2 separate regions of the Homo sapiens genome follow, and region 2 is linked to region 1. The links come from fine-mapping of genetic effects on plasma protein levels. Region 1 holds a variant in brackets. A gene starts in the other region. All regions are shown on their reverse strands.

Evidence for each region. A credible set is the group of variants that fine-mapping cannot tell apart. PIP is the posterior inclusion probability: the model's chance that the variant is causal. The UK Biobank Pharma Proteomics Project read protein levels with antibody pairs (Olink). The fine-mapping took linkage between variants from a reference panel, not from the people measured, so its PIPs are less certain.
Region 2: it holds the start of PRSS22, and the variant in region 1 is the best candidate, but not a certain one, in a credible set for the plasma level of the PRSS22 protein (UK Biobank, PIP 0.85).

Annotation. Positions count from the first base shown.
Region 1 is chr14:93,217,668-93,220,167 of GRCh38, reverse strand. It overlaps UBR7 (ubiquitin protein ligase E3 component n-recognin 7), which reads right to left. Exons shown (of 11, transcript NM_175748.4): 7 at 1,433-1,641; 8 at 807-956. Among named protein-coding and RNA genes, the nearest start is that of UBR7, 12 kb to the right of the region's middle. The variant A/C (reference allele first, on the strand shown) is at 1,026.
Region 2 is chr16:2,856,770-2,859,785 of GRCh38, reverse strand. PRSS22 (serine protease 22) reads left to right here and starts at 1,616. Exons shown (of 6, transcript NM_022119.4): 1 at 1,616-1,763; 2 at 2,938-2,964. The coding sequence starts at 1,682. RefSeq lists enhancers at 430-1,029, 1,030-1,630, 1,631-2,231.

The sequences.
Region 1 (2,500 bases):
GAGAATCACTAAAAATGTAATTTTTTTATATTAAGACCTAGAAAAACTGGAGCGTCTTTAACACAGAATTGCTAGAAGGATTTATTCTTTTTGCCTAAATTTCTTTCAGAAATCTCCCAATTTCCCAGATGTCATATGGTCTATGAGATCTTTATTTAAAAACCATTGATTTACTGTTAACTTTTTTTTTTTTTGAGATGGAGTTTCACTCGTTGCCCAGGCTGGAGTGCAATGGCATGATCTCGACTCATTGCAACCTCCGCCTTCTGGGTTCAAGCGATTCTCCTGCCTTGGCCTCCCAAGGAGCTGGGATTACAGGCATGTGCCACCACACCCAGCTAATTTTGTATTTTTAGTACAGACAGGATTTCACCATGTTGGTCAGGCTGGTCTCGAACTCCTGACCTCAGGTGATCGAGACCTAACTTGGCCTCCCAGAGTGCTGGGATTACAGGCGTGAGCCAAAGCACCTGGCCAATTTACTATAACTTTCAACCAGTGTTTCCAAGCAACTTTGATATAACAAAGATAAGTAAACTAAAATTAAAATAAGTAAATTTAAAATACTGCATAATTATCCATTTCTTCCACAAACATTCCAACTGTAAGTACTATGTCATAAATTTGCTTAATGTAAAAATTTGGAGGGTCTCCTAAACATTAATTTCATAAATATATTGTTCAGGTGTTCTTTTTATTTTCCTTTCTTCCTCTGGTACAAAAATTGAATGTTTTCCCCAGGTGTTCTTATTTTGGGGCACCAGTACACAAAACATGCTAACACTGAGCACAATCAGATACTTTACCATACAGTCTTGGCAGGTACACAACTTGCTACGCCAGTTCAGGGGCCAATAGGTGGCAGTGTCTTTCTTTATAAGCTGCTTAGCTTTAAGCTCCTGAAGTTTGCAGCCAGATTTTGATTCTGCGTTGAGGCTTTCATTCTTAAACACTGTCTGAAATAAAATTAAGTTTTGAAGCATGTTTTTTAAACTACCATAGTTTTCATAGTTTAGATTTTGTAA[A/C]GAGATTTCTTTAGGCAAAGGATAAAATTGAAATCCAAAGCCATAAGTTTACAGAATTAATTCCACTTCAGTTTTCTTTTTTTTTTTTGAGACGGAATCTCATTCTGTTGCCCAGGCTAGAGTGCAGTGGCATGATCTCGGATCACTGTAACCTCCGCCTCCTGGGTTCAAGCAATTCTCCTGCCTCAGCCTCCTGAGTAGCTGGGATTACAGGCATGTGCCACCATGCCTGGCTAGTTTTTGTAATTTTAGTAGAGATGAGGTTTACCCATGTTGCCAAGGCTGGTCTCAAACCCGTGACCTCAGGTGATCCGCCACCTCAGCCTCCCAAAGTGCTGGGATTATGGGCATGAGCCACCGCGCCTGGCCCAGTCTTATTTCTTGATGGCTCGTACTTCACACATTACCTGGAGATCAGATTCAGAACTAGAGCCGGCACATGGTTCACTGTTCTGCTCTACTTTAACCTCCCGGACATCATCCTTTCCCTGTTCTGGAACATCCTCTTTGAGGGTACTATCTTGATGCTCTCCATTTTCAGGTTTGATAACTTCCTGATCACCTATTCCATCAATGTTCCGCACCAATCCATCATCCTCAGTGGATATTTTGGTTACTGTGAGTTCAAAGAAAAAGAAAAACACATACACACATATCCACTGACCTAACGGACAATAAAATCCCAACAGACAATAAAATCACTTATTCTATTATTATTATTTTTTTTTTTTACAGACAGAGTCTCACTCTGTCGTCCACACTGGAGTGCAGTGGCATGGTCTTGACTCACTGCAACCTCTGTCTCCCAGGTTCAAGCAATTCTCATGCCTCAGCCACCCGAGTAGCTGGGACTACAGGTGCGTGCCACCATGACTGGCTAATTTTTTGTATTTTTAGTAGAGACGGGGTTTCGCCATGTTGGCCAGGCTGGTCTTGAACTCCTGATGTCAAGTGATCTGCCTGCCTCAGCCTCCCAAAGTGCTGGGATTACAGGTGTGAGCCACCACATCAGGCATACAATAGCTTTTGCTATTTTTTTTTTTTTTTTGAGATAGAGTTTCGCTCTTGTTGCCCAGGCTGGAGTGCAATGGCGTGATCTTGGCTCATTGCAACCCCCACCTCCTGGGTTCAGGCAATTCTCCTGCCTCAGCCCCCTGAGTAGCTGGGATTACAGGCATGCACCAGCATGCCTGGCTATTTTTTATTTTTAGTAGAGATGGGGTTTCTCCATGTTGGTCAGGCTGGTCTGGAACTCCTGACCTCAGGTGATCCACCTGCCTCGGCCTCCCAAAGTGCTGGGATTACAGGCATGAGCCACCACATCTGACCTAAAATCACTTTTTCTGATATTAAAATATTTCAGAATCTGGAAAAAGAGATTAGTCCACCGTAGTCTCCGAAATACTGAGAAAGAAAATTCCAACGCTTCTTTAGGTTATGTCTGCCTAACCCAAAGAATTCAAATAATTAAACAG
Region 2 (3,016 bases), not on the chromosome of region 1:
CACGCCACCCTGACTCTGCAGGGAGCAAGTTAGGGCTCACCCCAGGCAGGGTGAGGCACCTCCTCCAGGCTCCCGAAGCCTCCATGAGGGCAGTCCCAGCAGCCACCCCCAGTGTTGGGGTGCAGGTCCGGCTCCACCACTCACCCAGCAATCTCGGGCAAGTCACTTAACCGCCCTAAGCTGCCTCAGTTTCCTTATCTGCAGAGTGGGAATAATAAAGACATTTGAGGATTAGGAGGCAATGCATGGCACTCCTAAATGTTTGCTCTATTATATAAATACTATATTTATATTTGTATAAATATATTTATTACATACATATTCACTACTATGGTTTTTTTTTTTTTTTTTTGAAACAGAGTCTCGCTCTGTCGCCCAGGCTGGAGTGCAGTGGCGTGATCTCAGCTCACTGCAACCTCCGCCTCCCAGGTTCAAGCGATTCTCCTGCCTCAGCCTCCCAAGTAGATGGGACTAAGGGCGCCTGCCACCATGCCTGGCTAATTTTTTTTTTTTTGTATTTTTAGTAGAGACGGGGTTTTACTATGTTGGCCAGACTGGTATTGAACTCCTGACCTCATGATCTGTCCGTCTTGGCCTCCCAAAGTGCTGGGATTACAGGAATAAGCCACCCCACCCAGACACTATGGTTGTTTTTAATTCACCCCCGGCGGTAGCAAGGGCCCTGCTGGAGGCTTGTTGATCGAATGAGTGAAGGGGCGCAGGCTCCTGCCTCTTTGTAGAGGAGGAAGCCTGCCCTGCTTGGGTGGGAGTGTCCCAAGTGTGGGGCGCTGCAGGGCACTGAGTCAGGGAAGGTCTCACAGGATTCAGCCCCGGGTTGCCACTGTGGCAGCCGCTGGGGGGAAGCACCGAGAATCCACTCCCAGCCCAGGACCCGGCCCCCCACAGCCCAGCCCAGCAGCTCTTTGAATCCTGGGAGTCCCAGCCCTTCCCGGGGCCCCTCTTCTCTCAACCCCCCTGCTTGGCCGAGCCCTGGTGCCCATGGGCTCCTCCCCTTCCCAGGAGTCCAGGTGAGGTGAGTTGTCAGGTGTCTGAACCGCAGGGCAGAGCCCCGCCTCCAGGAACGACAGGAGGGCGGCCACCAGGAGGCCACCAAGGTCGCCACTCACCTGATTCACAGCTTTCGGGAAGTGGGTTAACGGGATTCCCAAGCCCGGGTTGCGCCAGGTCTCTGGGCTGAGTCACAGGGGCCTGGGGCCCTGCAGGTGGGAGCCGTTACTGAGCTTTGGGCACCCCCTTGATCCCTAAGGCCCTAGGACCACCCCCAACACCCAGTACCCCAGACTTCAGCCTCTCCAAACCCAGGCCCTCCCCAGCCCGGAACCCCTTCCTTTCAGTGCCCTGGCACCTTTCTCTGCCCCTGGACAATTAATGTCAGGGACCTCTGGGCCCAAGCCCCCTCCCCTGCCCTTCCAGAGGCCACATCCTGGGGTCTCAGCTAGAGCCCCCCCAGAGCCCTGTAGCGGCTGGCTTCCTCCCCGCAGCCCCGCCCTCTGCCCAGGACCCACAGCCGGGGTGGCCGCGGGAGCCACCTGGGGACTGGTCTGACGGCATTCCGCCTCCCAGGATAAAACCTGGGGCGACCTGCAGGGAACCTACACACCCTGACCCGCATCGCCCTGGGTCTCTCGAGCCTGCTGCCTGCTCCCCCGCCCCACCAGCCATGGTGGTTTCTGGAGCGCCCCCAGCCCTGGGTGGGGGCTGTCTCGGCACCTTCACCTCCCTGCTGCTGCTGGCGTCGACAGGTACGTCCGGAGGCTGCTCCTCCCTCCTCCCTCTCACCTCCACCCTCCTTCCCTCCTTCCCTCCCTCCCTCTCTCCCTCCTGGCCTTGCCTCTCTCATCTCCTTTCCGCTTCTGCTCTGTTTATCTCTTGCTCCTTAACTGCTCTGTGCCTCGGTTTCTTCTACGGCTGTGAGGATGAAACAGAAAACGCAGCAAGTACGCAGCGCGCCTCGGTCTCCAGTTACCGTCGGCGTCGCCATCGCCTGCTCCCTCTCGCCTCCGTGTTCTCCCATCTCCTCGTCCTCCGCTGCTTGCCTCTGGGGAAGCACCGTTTTGTGTTGTTCCTGCCGCAGGAGGTCAGGGGAGGGCACACCAGCGGCAGCAGCGTCCAGAGCCGAGGGGCTCAGGTCTGTGCCTCCCTCGAGGAGCCGGTCCTGGTCCCCGGAAGGCAGGCTGGACGGGAAGCTGCGGGAGGGCAGGGTCACAGCTGTGCAGCCAGGGCCTGGCCAGGCCCCAGGAAATGCCCCGCCGGTAGGGGCCCTGGGGTTGAGAGACTTGAGAGTCTCCCTGGGCACTGGAGGGCTAGAGGTTCCTCACCACCAGGTACTCAAGGGGACCCCCTCCTCACTGGGCGCTGGGACGCCTGCTCACTGGGCGCTGGGACCCCTCCTCACTGGGCGCTGGGACCCCCTCCTCACTGAGCGCTGGGACCCCCTCGTCACTGGGCGCTGGGGACCCCTCCTCACTGGGCGCTGGGGAGCCCTCCTCACTGGGCGCTGGGGACCCCTCCTCACTGGGCGCTGGGGAACCCTCCTCACTAGGCGCTGGGGAGCCCTCCTCACTGGGCGCTGGGGACCCCTCCTCACTGGGTGCTGGGACCCCTTCCCACTGGGCACTGGACCCCTTCTCACTGGGTGCTGGGGGCTTCTCGCTGGGCGCTGAGGGACCCTCCTCACTGGGTACTGGGACCCCTCCTCACTGGGCGCTGAGGGACCCTCCTCAGGGGGTGCTGGGACCCCTCCTCACTGGGCGCTGAGGGACCCTCCTCACTGGGTGCTGGGACCTCCACCTCACTGGGCACTGGGATCCCTTCTTACTGGGTGTTGGGGGCCTTCCTCACTGGGCGTTGAGGGCCCCTCACCACTGTGTCCTGGGGCCCCTCACCGGCCTAACCGTTTCCTTCTCTTGCCCTCAGCCATCCTCAATGCGGCCAGGATACCTGGTGAGTGGAGCTGGCAGCTCTGACGGGAGGGAGAAGGGAGGAGGCCCACGCG